Homo sapiens: one gene and its partners. The protein of the gene in region 1 purifies or fractionates together with the protein of each later gene. This does not show direct contact. Each region holds a gene or a part of one and is shown on either strand. Other genes may lie near its edges. The genes, in order: FAM83A, CEP97 and SUGP2.

Region 1 (3,651 bases):
CAGACCAGCAGCCAGAGGTCCCAAGGCCTGTGGCAGCAGGAGGCAGCACTGAACTCAGCTGCATCTGTGCAGAGGGGAAGGGAGGGAGGGAGGAGGCTTCATTCTTATCTGGGAGGTTCTCCCAGAGGACAGAACCTCTCTTGCCTGAACTAGAGGAGACTGATCAAAAGAACTCTGAGGGCCACCAATCAGCTGTTCACCCAGGCCTACTCATGAAAGCTATGGGTGGTGTTCACATTTGAATTAGTTGTCCTCAAATTTATGTGATGAATCAAACCCTTATCGCTGGGTTTCTTTTCTCTTTGCCAGGAGAGGGAAGTACGGGGTTCAGTTAAGTCCAAGAGGATCAATGTCTTGTTGGGACCAGGGAGTTCTGAACATGCACCCACAGACCCTGGAGGTTGCCTGCCCTGTAAGATGCAATCCCTGGGCTTCCCCAGCTGAGAGGAGAACTGGAGTACATGGCAGAGATGCTGCTCACCAGATACCCATGACCCTTTACATTTCCCAGCATCCGTGCATCTGGGTAAGGTCAATGAGTTATAAGAGAAAGCGATGGAAATCTCCTCCAGGTCAGATCCTGGAAACATCCTGCAGAGTCTCCCAGCCTTCTCTTTCCCTGTCATGGTTATCTTAGAGGCCGTGTATTTCTCATGATGTAGCTACAATATGGAGGAGGGCCATCTGACCTACATAGGAGTTTGTTTGAGCAAGAAATGAACCTTTATTGTGTTAAGCTATTAACACAAGATGAGGGACATTTGTTACTATTGCATAGACTATCCTATCTGGGCTAATATGAGTACCCTTAGGACTCTCATTGGGGCCCCTACCTTGAGGTGACTGTCAGAGATCTGGACTTTGTCACACATCTCCTGGAAGAGCTTCACACCTCCCTGGTCCAGGAGCACACAAACGAACACCCCACGCTTGTTGGCTGCCTCTAGAATGTCACAGAAGATCTCCACATCCGTGAACACATCCATCAGGATGACCAGGACCTGGGCCAGGGCAGAGTGCTCAGTTACCAGAAAGGTCAGGGGCAGGTGCTAACTGGTTTCACCCAAACTGCCTGAGTCCCAGTGGGCCTGGGAGAGCTGTTCCCATTGGGCCAGAGGGGAGAGGATGGGGTAGAGTGGGTCTGACTGGGCAGGATTAATGGAAGGAAAAGGAAGAGCTGGAGTGGAGGCCCCTGCGCCTGTCCTGATACCATCTCTCCAGTCCCACCACCTATCTGTTGGCCCCTATGCCCATTGTGGGAGTGGGGAGTGCAGAGGAGGAAGGGAAAAGTCTAGAAAGAGAAGGAGAGCAGAGAAGAACAAGAAGAAGCATCTCAACCGGTTCCAGAAGAGGAATAAAGTTAAGGTTATGGATTCTCAGCCACTTGGAGCTAGAGGGCACACTATGGCCACTGATTTTCAAATGCTGTTAAGCCGTGGAATCCTATCCTCAAACAAAATCCCATGTGGAGGCACCGTATATAAGCGCCTAGAGCAAGCTGCTCCCCGTGGGATGGAGAAGGGAGTCACGCTCTACCCACAGCTACTGCATCATGTGTCACAGTAGAAACTGGGGAGGGGAGTTCTAGACCTTCAGTGAGCAGGAGAGACATCTGTGTTCCTCCTGCCAAGCATTCATTCTCCCTTCTTCTGTCAACAGCATCCCAATCTGACTTTAAGTAATTGCCTCCCCTCCACAATCAATGTGGTTTGGAAGGGTCTATTGCCATTCTTTGACTGGATATGGGGAGACCACATGACCAAGGCTAGACCAATGGGAGCATGGCATCCCCTGTTGGCCACAGACATTGGTCCAGAGGTGGTCACATGATCTAAGTTATTCTAATAAGAGTCAGCCCAGGACTTTAGCTGGGACTCCTGGGAAAAGGAGGTGTTCTTTCTACGAGGTTGCTTAGCTGGTATTTTATAAGCAATGGCTGCTGGCAACCATTTTTGCTACCTCTTGGGGAGAGCCTGCCTGACAATGAAGCCATCCCTGGAGAAAGCAGCCAGGAGGTAGAGACAGAGTCCCAGCATTGTCATTTGGACACCTGGTTCCAGCCATGCCTGAGACCAGTGCCACCCTTGACTTTTCCACTGTGGATGTTAATGAATGTTTCTCTTCTTCTTAAGCTTGTTTGGGTTTACTCTCTGTCACCCAGTCATGAGTCCTTTCTAATACCTTAATTGTGATATACTGACAAGCAGCTTATTAGGCAGTCATTAAAAATGTTAATTACTGCCGGGCGCGGTGGCTCACGCCTGTAATACCAACACTTTGGGAGGCCGAGGCGGGCGGATCATTTGAGATCTGGAGCTCGAGACCAGCCTGATCAACATGGTGAAAGCTCGTCTCTACTAAAAAAAAAAAAAAAAATTAGCTGGACTGGTAGTGCACGCCTATAGTCCCAGCTACTGGGGAGGCTGAGGCAAGAGAATCGCTTGAACCCAGGAGGCAGAGGTTGCAGTGAGCCGAGATCGCACCACTGCACTCCAGCCTGGGTGACAGAAAGAGACTCTGTCTCAAAATAAAAAAATAAGAAAATACATAAAAATTTAAAATGTTAATTTTCTTTCTTTCTTTCTTCTTTCTTTCTTTCTTTTCTTTCTTTTCTTCCTCTCTCTCTTTCATTTTTTTTCTGTAGACATGGGGTTTCACTATGTTGCCCAGGCTGGTCTCGAACTGTTGGGCTTAAGCAATCCTTAAGCCTCAGCCTCCCAAATTGCTGGGATTACAGGAGTGAGCCACCCCACCTGCTCCATTATAATCTTATGGGAGCACTGTCATAGATGTGGTCTGTTAGTAACCAAAATGTCATTATTCCGTACATGATTGTAGGTAAGCCCAAAGCAAAAACTAACAGTCATGTTAGGATGGGGGATGTGAACCCAGAAAATAAAACAGGGCTCAGTTAATTTAGAAAGTTTATTTTGCCAAGGTTGAGGACATGCCCGAGGAAGTCCTGACGACATGTGCCCAAGGTGGTCGGGGCACAGCTTGATTTTATACATTTTAGGGAGACATGAGACATCAATTAATAGATGTAAGAAGTACTTTGGTTCAATCTGGAAAGGTGGGACAACTGGAAGCAAAGGCAGGAAGACTCAAAGCCAGGAGGGAGCATCCAGGCCACAGATAAGTAAGACAAAAACTGTTGCATTCTTTTGAGTTTCTGATTAGTCTTTCCAAAGGAGGCATCAGATATGCATCTATCTCAGTGAGCAGAGCGGTGACTTTGAATAGAATGGGAGGCAGGTTTGCCCTAAGCAGTTTCCAGCTTGAGTTTTCCTTAGTGATTTTGGGGGCCAAAGATACTTTCCTTTCACAGGGAATACGGCCATTCCCTTTCTTCAAGATTACCTGTAATAATAAGTTTCCACTATCTTTCTAATCATTGCAATATATTTTTTAAAACCACCGCCATCTGGGAAGTAGCCAAGGAAAGAGAGGTGTCTTACTGGCAGGCCAAACTGATGGCTGGTATCCACTTGGAATCAACTTTCTGTGATGTGGATGGATAGCTGGACAGGGGAGGGAACTCCTCAGAGATTGCTCACCCTGGGCAGGAAATCGGAAAAGATGTTCTAATAATGAGGCTGTGATCATTAGAACCATGGCCCTGTAATCACACAATTAATTGTCTTGCACACA
Region 2 (3,651 bases), on another chromosome or scaffold:
AGAAATAAGTCAAATTAAAAAGTGAAAGTACCCACTCCCACTCTCCAGGGATAATCTCTGTTAAAATAAACTAAAAATAAATCTCATTTTGAAACATATAATATGACATAATATTCTTTTAAATTTGAACAAAGAATCTATATTGTACTTAGAAAAAAGTAGATCAAACCATAGAGTGTTTAGGAGGGAGACTATATCATGCTGAATTAAGCTTTAAGTAAATGTTTAATGCTATAAGGGAGAATATACAGTTTTAAAAGTTAGGAGATCTGAATTCTAGTCCTACTTGCACTACTTAGTAACTGTGTAATTTTGGGTAAATTAATACATATTTCTGCGTCTTATTTTTTGGCATGCTAGCTGAGAGGACTAGATTACCAATAGCTGCCTTTTATTGAGCCATTAATGTATCTGAGCTACTGTTCTAAACATTTATCTGTATTAACTTATTCAATCTCATGGTAGCCTGCGAAGTAGATATAGACATTATGCGTGTTATAAAGGTGAAGGAACTAAAGCACAGAAAAGTAACTTGCTCAAGGTCACACAGCTAGGAAGTTGCAGGGCCAGAATGTAAATCCAGGCTGTTTGGTTTTAATCTAAACTTGTAAACTCTATTCTATACCACCAACTGTCATATATTATTACTATGGTTTCTTTTGTTTTTTTTTTTTTTTTGATGGAGTTTTGCTCTTATTGTCCAGGCTGGAGTGCAGTGGCACGATCTTGGCTCACTGCAACCTCTGCCTCCTGGGTTTAAGCAATTCTCCTGCCTCAGCCTCAAGAGTAACTGGGATTACAGGCGCCTGCCCACCATGCCTGGCTAATTTTTAGTATTTTTTTAGTAGAGACAGGGTTTCGCCATGTTGGCCAGGCTGGTCTCGAACTCCTGACCTCAGGCTGTCCACCCACCTCGGCCTCCCAAAGTGCTGGGATTACAGGTGTGAGCCATAGCGCCTGGCCATTACTATGTTTTTTTTCAAGCTGTAAAGATCTTGGATGGTATGAACTACTTGGTAGCCCTCTACTCATAGAGAGATAATGAAAGTGTACGTTTACAACCTGACAATCTACTAAATTCTGTTAGTACTGCCCCTTTTCTCTTGCTAAGTTCTTCTACTCTGCTTCTAATAATAAGAGGAGGGAAGACACTCTTTCAGCTGCAAAGAACTAGGGAATAATTTTATTTTTTGATTTTGTTTTCATTAAATAGTGTGATGCTTTTCTTGTGATAGGCCATGGAACAGATCAATAGCTGCACAGCTCTACAGCATCTCGATTTATCAGACAATAATATATCCCAGATAGGTGATCTATCTAAATTGGTATCCCTGAAAGTAAGTATGTTTTCTTTGTCATTTGTGAAGTTTTATAGCAAAATACCAAGAGAAAGTAATCTTACTGACCTAAAATTAGCCTGCTTTGTATGAGCAGATTGCTTTCTTTATGATAAGAATTATGGGCTGGGCATGGTGGGTCATGCCTGTAATCCCAGCACTTTGAGAGGCTGAGGCGAGTGGATGGCTTGAGCTCAGAAGTTCAAGACTAGCCTGGGCAACATGGCAAAGCCCCATCTCTACTAAAAATACCAAAAATTAGTGGGGCATAGTGGTGCGAGCCTGTAGTCCCAGCTACTCAGCTAAAGCAGGATTGGTTGAACCCAGGAGGTGGAGGTTGTGGTGACCCGAGATTGGGTCACTGCACTCTAGCCTGGGCAATAGAGTGAGACTCAGTCTCAAAAAAAAAAAAAGGAATTATGTTAGAATACCAGAAATTAAGTTTGAAACTTTTTGTTGTTAGTTATATAACTCATTTATTTGATGTGAAACTGGTCATTGTAGTTAAGGTTAATTTTATTTACCATTCTCTGAACATGATGGAATTCCCTGTATGCCCAATCAACCAATATTAGTAACTTCAGTTATTATATAGTACATAATCTTTGGTGAGGTTGAGATTAATCATTCCTGAATTTGAGTCTGTCTTTATTTTTTTTTGAGACAGAGTCTTGCTCTGTCACCCAGGCTAGAGTGTAGTAGTACAATCTCACTCGACCTCCCAGGCTCAAGTGATCCTCTCACCTTAGCCTCCCAAGTAGCTAGGACCATAGGCATGTGTACATCACCACACCCAGCTAATTTTTTGAGTGTTTGTAGAGATGAGATCTTTTTCTTTTCTTTTTTTTTTTTAGATAGAGTTCTGCTCTGTCACCCAAGCAGTGGTGCAATCTTGGCTCACTGCAACCCAAGCAGTGGTTGCAGTGGTGCAATCTTGGCTCACTGCAACCTCTGCCTCCTGTGTTCAAGTGATACTTCTGCCTCAGCGTCCCGCGTAGCTGGGATTATAGGCGCCCACCACCACACCTGGCTAATTTTTTGTATTTTTAGTAGAGACAGGATTTCACCACGTTGGCCAGGCTGATTTTGAACTCCTGACCTCACATGATCCTCCTGCCTTGGCCTCGCAAAGTGTTGGGATTACAAGCGTGAGCCACTGCACCTGGCCAGAGATGAGATCTTACTATGTTGTCTAGACTGGTCTCAAACTCCTGGACTCTAGCAGTCCTCCTGCCTCAGTCTCTCAAAGTGCTAGGATTACAGGCATGAGCCACCGAACTGGCCGAGTCTGTTTTTTTGTTTTGTTTTGTTTTGTTTTGTTTTGTTTTGTTTTGTTTTGTTTTGTTGAGACGGAGTTTTGCTCTGTTGCCCAGGCTGGAGTGCAGTGGCGCAATCTCGGCTCACTGCAACCTCTGCCTCCCAGGTTCAAGCGATTCTCCTGCCTCAGCCTCCTGAGTAGCTGGGACTACAGGTGCATGCCACCACGCCCAGCTAATTTTTGTATTTTTAGTAGAGATGGCATTTCATCATGTTGGCCAGGCTGGTCTCGAACTCCTGACCTTGTGATCCACCCGCCTCGGCCTCCCAAAGTGTTGGGATTACAGGCATGAGCCACTGCGCTGGGTCCCAAGTCTGGATTTTTTTTTTTTTTTTTGACATTCAGAATTGCTGTTTTTAAAGTAATAGGTATTAGCTAATTGTCAAAATTAATTTCACTTAGAAAAAAACATGTAGCATGTAGCACTTTTTATGGAGGGGAATGTATCATGCAGTCAAATAAGTAACAGTTGAAATCACAGTCTTGAAAAACATGTAGAACATTTTAAATATTGTTGCCTCATTGGATATTATTACCATCAGATATGTTCATTAAGCCCTAGAAGCAGTATCTTAGTTCACTTTTTCCCAGATCTTTAGCAGAAATCATTTTTAGCAATAATTATTCTAAACATTTTGATGTAGCCAGATGTTGTCCTAATAGATGCTAAGAGAATTCAAATGAACCAAAGATGATTGAATTTTTTTTTTTTTTTTTGCTGGAATAGAAGCCTATTTATCTGATCAGAATCCTGGGTGTTCAGTTTTGGGTTTATTCTTGGTTGTTGCTGACTTAATGTGAGTCAGCTTTATCTGCAAGTAACACATTCTACCTCCCTTTATTTTTTAGTTACCTAGAGAATACAGTTGCAATTATGGATGTAGGTTATCACTCTCTTTTTTGGAAAATTTGCTTTATATGTGGTTGTTTTAATGACTTTTTTTTTTTTTTTTTTTTAATTTGAGACATCAGAGTCTTGCTGTCACCCAGGCTCGA
Region 3 (3,651 bases), on another chromosome or scaffold:
ACAACCATGCTTCTCATATAGAGAACCACATCATATCATTTTATTCTATTTTTTATGAAAGGGAGATTAGCAAGTCTGTTTTTTTTTTTTTTTTTTTTTTTTTGAGACACAGTTTCGCTCTTGTTGCCCAGGCTGGAGTGCAGTGGTGTGATCTCAGCTCACTGCAACCTTCACCTCCCAGGTTCAAGCGATTCTCCAGCCTCAGCCTCCCGAGTAGCTGGGATTTCAGGAATGCGTCACCACGCCTCGCTAATTCTGTATTTTTAGTAGAGATGGGATATCTCCATGTTGGTCAGGCTGGTCTCAAACTCCCGACCAAAGGCGATCCTCCCGCCTTGGCCTCCCAGAGTGCTGGGATTACAGGTGTGAGCCAGCACACCCGGCGCAGGTCTGGTTTTTATCTCATCAACTACCCAAAGAACTGAGAGCTTCTAATGCAGAAATAAAAAACTCCACCTCCCCCCAAGAAGAGCATACATAACAAGCACTCTGATACACTACCTGCCATCCGTGACAAGTTTAATTATTTACTTCATTTTTTTTACATTAATTTTTTTTTCTTGTAAAGATTAGGTCTGGCCATCTTGCCCAGGCTGGTCTCAAGCTCCCGGGCTCAAGCGATCCTCTTGCCTCAGTCCCGCTAAGCTGGGATTACAGGCACGAGCCACTGCGCCTGGCCCCATGAGAAGTTTTGAAGGATGGTAAAGGTTATAGTAGAATGGTTAGCATTTCACTGCAACACCAAATTTTTCAAACACAAAACATGAGGACTATTCCAAAGCAGGAAAAACCATAAGGCCACTGTCACATGTAAATGTGACTGTCTGAATGATGTAGAACACACAGGTGACTGTTTAACACAGTCCCACAATGGGGCACCATTCACTACAACTTCACACATAGGTTTTGCAGCAGAAGTCCCATGTGAAAGCACGGTCCAGGCCTGACTGTGGGGAGACAGCTTGGAGGGCATTGGGGGCACAGGAGTCATCTGGGCCACGGCGTGCCCATCAAAAGGCCACATGCGATGCAATTCTATGTACTGACAGACTAGGAAAGATAGAATACCTGGGGCTTGGAAAACAGTCAGTGGTTGCTGAATCGGGCAGGGGACTGCAATGGGACAAGAGACCCGTTCTGGGAACAGGCTTCAGCTCTGCTGTACTGGTGGGTTCTCGCCTCTGCACAGTCAACAAAATTCAAATGGTCCACTTGAAAAGGGTGCGTTTCACTGCTGGTAAATTATACCTCAAGAACCCGGAACCTCCCCACAGGAGAGCAGGAGATGGCCTCTCATGGCCGAGGCAGGTCCCACTGACCACTGCCTGGGACCACCCCTGCTCTGTTCCCATCTCACTGTCATGACATGAAGCAGCTTATCAGCACCCTGGGCCTTCCAGGGGCTCAGAAGGGCCCCCAGCTGACAAAGTCACAGGCAGGAAAACAGCTGAGATGACCCAGGCCCATCCCCTCCACAGTTGGGGATGCCCCGACCTGAATCCAGGCAATCAGGGAAATGTCCAGCAGCAAGTAGAGTGCCAGAAGCCACAGGGTAGCAAGGAAACATGTCCTTAGAGCAATGCCTTCAGACCACTGGGAAACATGAGTGTCGGCTCACATTTTGGAGTGGTGCACAAAACTCTTTTGGATTAAAATGTCTCCACCTGTCTCTTCTAACTCTCACAGCCCACCAACCAAGAACTGTGCTAGAGGCAACTGTGCCGACAGGCGGGCACTCACCTTTTGGCTCCTGGATGAGACACACTCTCTTGGGAGCTGGAATCATGCCAACCTTCAATGACTTGCTGCTGATCCTCTTCCGAGGGAAGCAGGTACCTGAGGAGGCCTGTGACAAGGCAGGTGCTCCAGCCAGGTCGTCCTCGGCAGCCTCGCCGGGAAGGCCGTCGGCAGGGGTGCTGCCCTCAGACTTGCCCGCCCCTCCAGGAGCGGGGGCCTCCTCTCCCCCATCCTCATCGTCCTCGTCCTCCTCCTCAGGCATCACCTCTGGGCTCTCCAGCTCAGCCTCCCGCGGAGGGGGCTCGTCTTCAAACTCTGCTTCCCCTTCCATGAGGTCCACGGGGCTCTCCTGAGAACCCGTGGTGTCACCACCACCAGTGTGAAGGTTGTGCGGAGATGACGTGAAACAAATTGATGGACATAGTTCAAACACTTTCTTTCGATAGAATTTGAAAGCAGAACTATTTTGGTCATGTAGAAACCTGGGGCACAGAGGAAATACATTGGGTAACCAGATGGAATCTCTCAACATTTTTATTTGCTGAAACTGCTGGGATTGATCCAAGGAAGGTGGAGGTGGGACAAGGGAAAGAATAACCTGACCAGTCTCTACGCGGCTATGGCTTGATGGTGCAGCCTCTCAATGATAGAAAATTTGAGGAGTACTAGTAACTTAATAAGGAGCTAGAATTCAAGAAGCCTAACTGCTTTCCAGGGGACAGAGGCGGACGAACAAGGTATGCAGGGCTTGGGAAAATGCTGGAATAGAGATCTGGCTTGAGACCCATCTCACCCTTTCTGGTTACATCACTGGCCTCTCTGGGCCTCCATGTGCCCATTTTGACTCTGGTTCCTCCCAGGTATGAGAAGCATGGAGCGATGCCAGGAGGAGCTGCACAGTTACTGCTGGAACATGTGCACCATGGAACCGTAAGGTGCCCCCCGAGGAGGCTCCTCACCCCTAGCACTTCCCGCTCTGGGGCCTGCAGTCCACCTACATGGGCGTGGAGATGAGGCCTCTCTGTGCCTCAGGGGTCTGGTGGCCACCTCGACTTGTAACCACAGCTATGAAGCTGTGGCTGGTATGAGAAACTTGAAACACTCCCGAAAGCACCAAAGTCCACTTGGACCAAAGGAAAAATGGCCCTCGTAAGGCAACTCAACCTCATAAATGTGCCAAGTCCCCCCAGTTAGCATATTAATATATCCCAATAAAATCCCATTCTGAATCAGGGCAAGATGGTTCTAAAGTTCATAAAGAAAAATAATATGTAAGAGTATCTGGGAAAACTCTGAACAAGACTCATAAGGGGTTCCAGCCCCACCAAGCACTATAAAATGCCCCAAAGCCTCTAGAGTTAAACAGCATAGTAGTCCATAAGGCAGACCAAAGGAACAGAATAGAAAGACCAGAAACCCAGCATTTGATTAAGGTAACCTCTCAAACTACTACAAAAAAGGGGTGGGTCTTTCAAAGAATGGTATTGGAAAAGCTGGACGGCTTTATAATTATTATTACACATTTTTAGAGATGGGGTCTCACTCTGTCGTCCAGGCTAGAGTGCAGTGGTGTGATCACAGCTCACTGCAGCCTCAAACTCCTGGGCTCAAGAAATCTTCCTACATCAGCCACCCAAGTAGTTAGGACCACAGGCAAATGCCACTATACCAGGCTAACAAACACACACACACACACACACACACACACACACACACACACACACACACCACACACACACACCACACACACATACAACTAAATATCAGCAGAAACAAATGAATCTGGGCCGGGCATGGTGGCTCATGCCTCCCAGCACATTTTGGGAGGCTGAGGCAGGCAGATCACCTGAGGTCAGGAATCCAAGACTAGCCTGGCCAACATGGTGAAACCCCGTCTCTACTAAAAATACAAAA

The links.
Region 2: the proteins of FAM83A (region 1) and CEP97 purify together in Homo sapiens (affinity purification with mass spectrometry; one large-scale study listed by BioGRID and IntAct). This does not show direct contact.
Region 3: the proteins of FAM83A (region 1) and SUGP2 purify together in Homo sapiens (affinity purification with mass spectrometry; one large-scale study listed by BioGRID and IntAct). This does not show direct contact.

What each region holds. Positions count from the first base shown.
Region 1 is NC_000008.11:123,189,153-123,192,803, reverse strand, and holds part of FAM83A (protein FAM83A), read right to left. Parts: intron 1,002-3,651; coding exon 834-1,001; intron 1-833. UniProt on the Homo sapiens protein: Involved in mitochondrial maintenance during adipogenesis. May be acting by playing a role in the maintenance of normal mitochondrial function.
Region 2 is NC_000003.12:101,727,601-101,731,251, forward strand, and holds part of CEP97 (centrosomal protein of 97 kDa), read left to right. Parts: intron 1-1,213; exon of another isoform or gene 1,214-1,235; coding exon 1,236-1,337; intron 1,338-3,651. UniProt on the Homo sapiens protein: Acts as a key negative regulator of ciliogenesis in collaboration with CCP110 by capping the mother centriole thereby preventing cilia formation. Required for recruitment of CCP110 to the centrosome.
Region 3 is NC_000019.10:19,002,428-19,006,078, forward strand, and holds part of SUGP2 (SURP and G-patch domain-containing protein 2), read right to left. Parts: intron 2,220-3,651; coding exon 1,741-2,219; intron 1,182-1,740; coding exon of another isoform or gene 1,087-1,181; exon of another isoform or gene 1,069-1,086; intron 1-1,068. UniProt on the Homo sapiens protein: May play a role in mRNA splicing.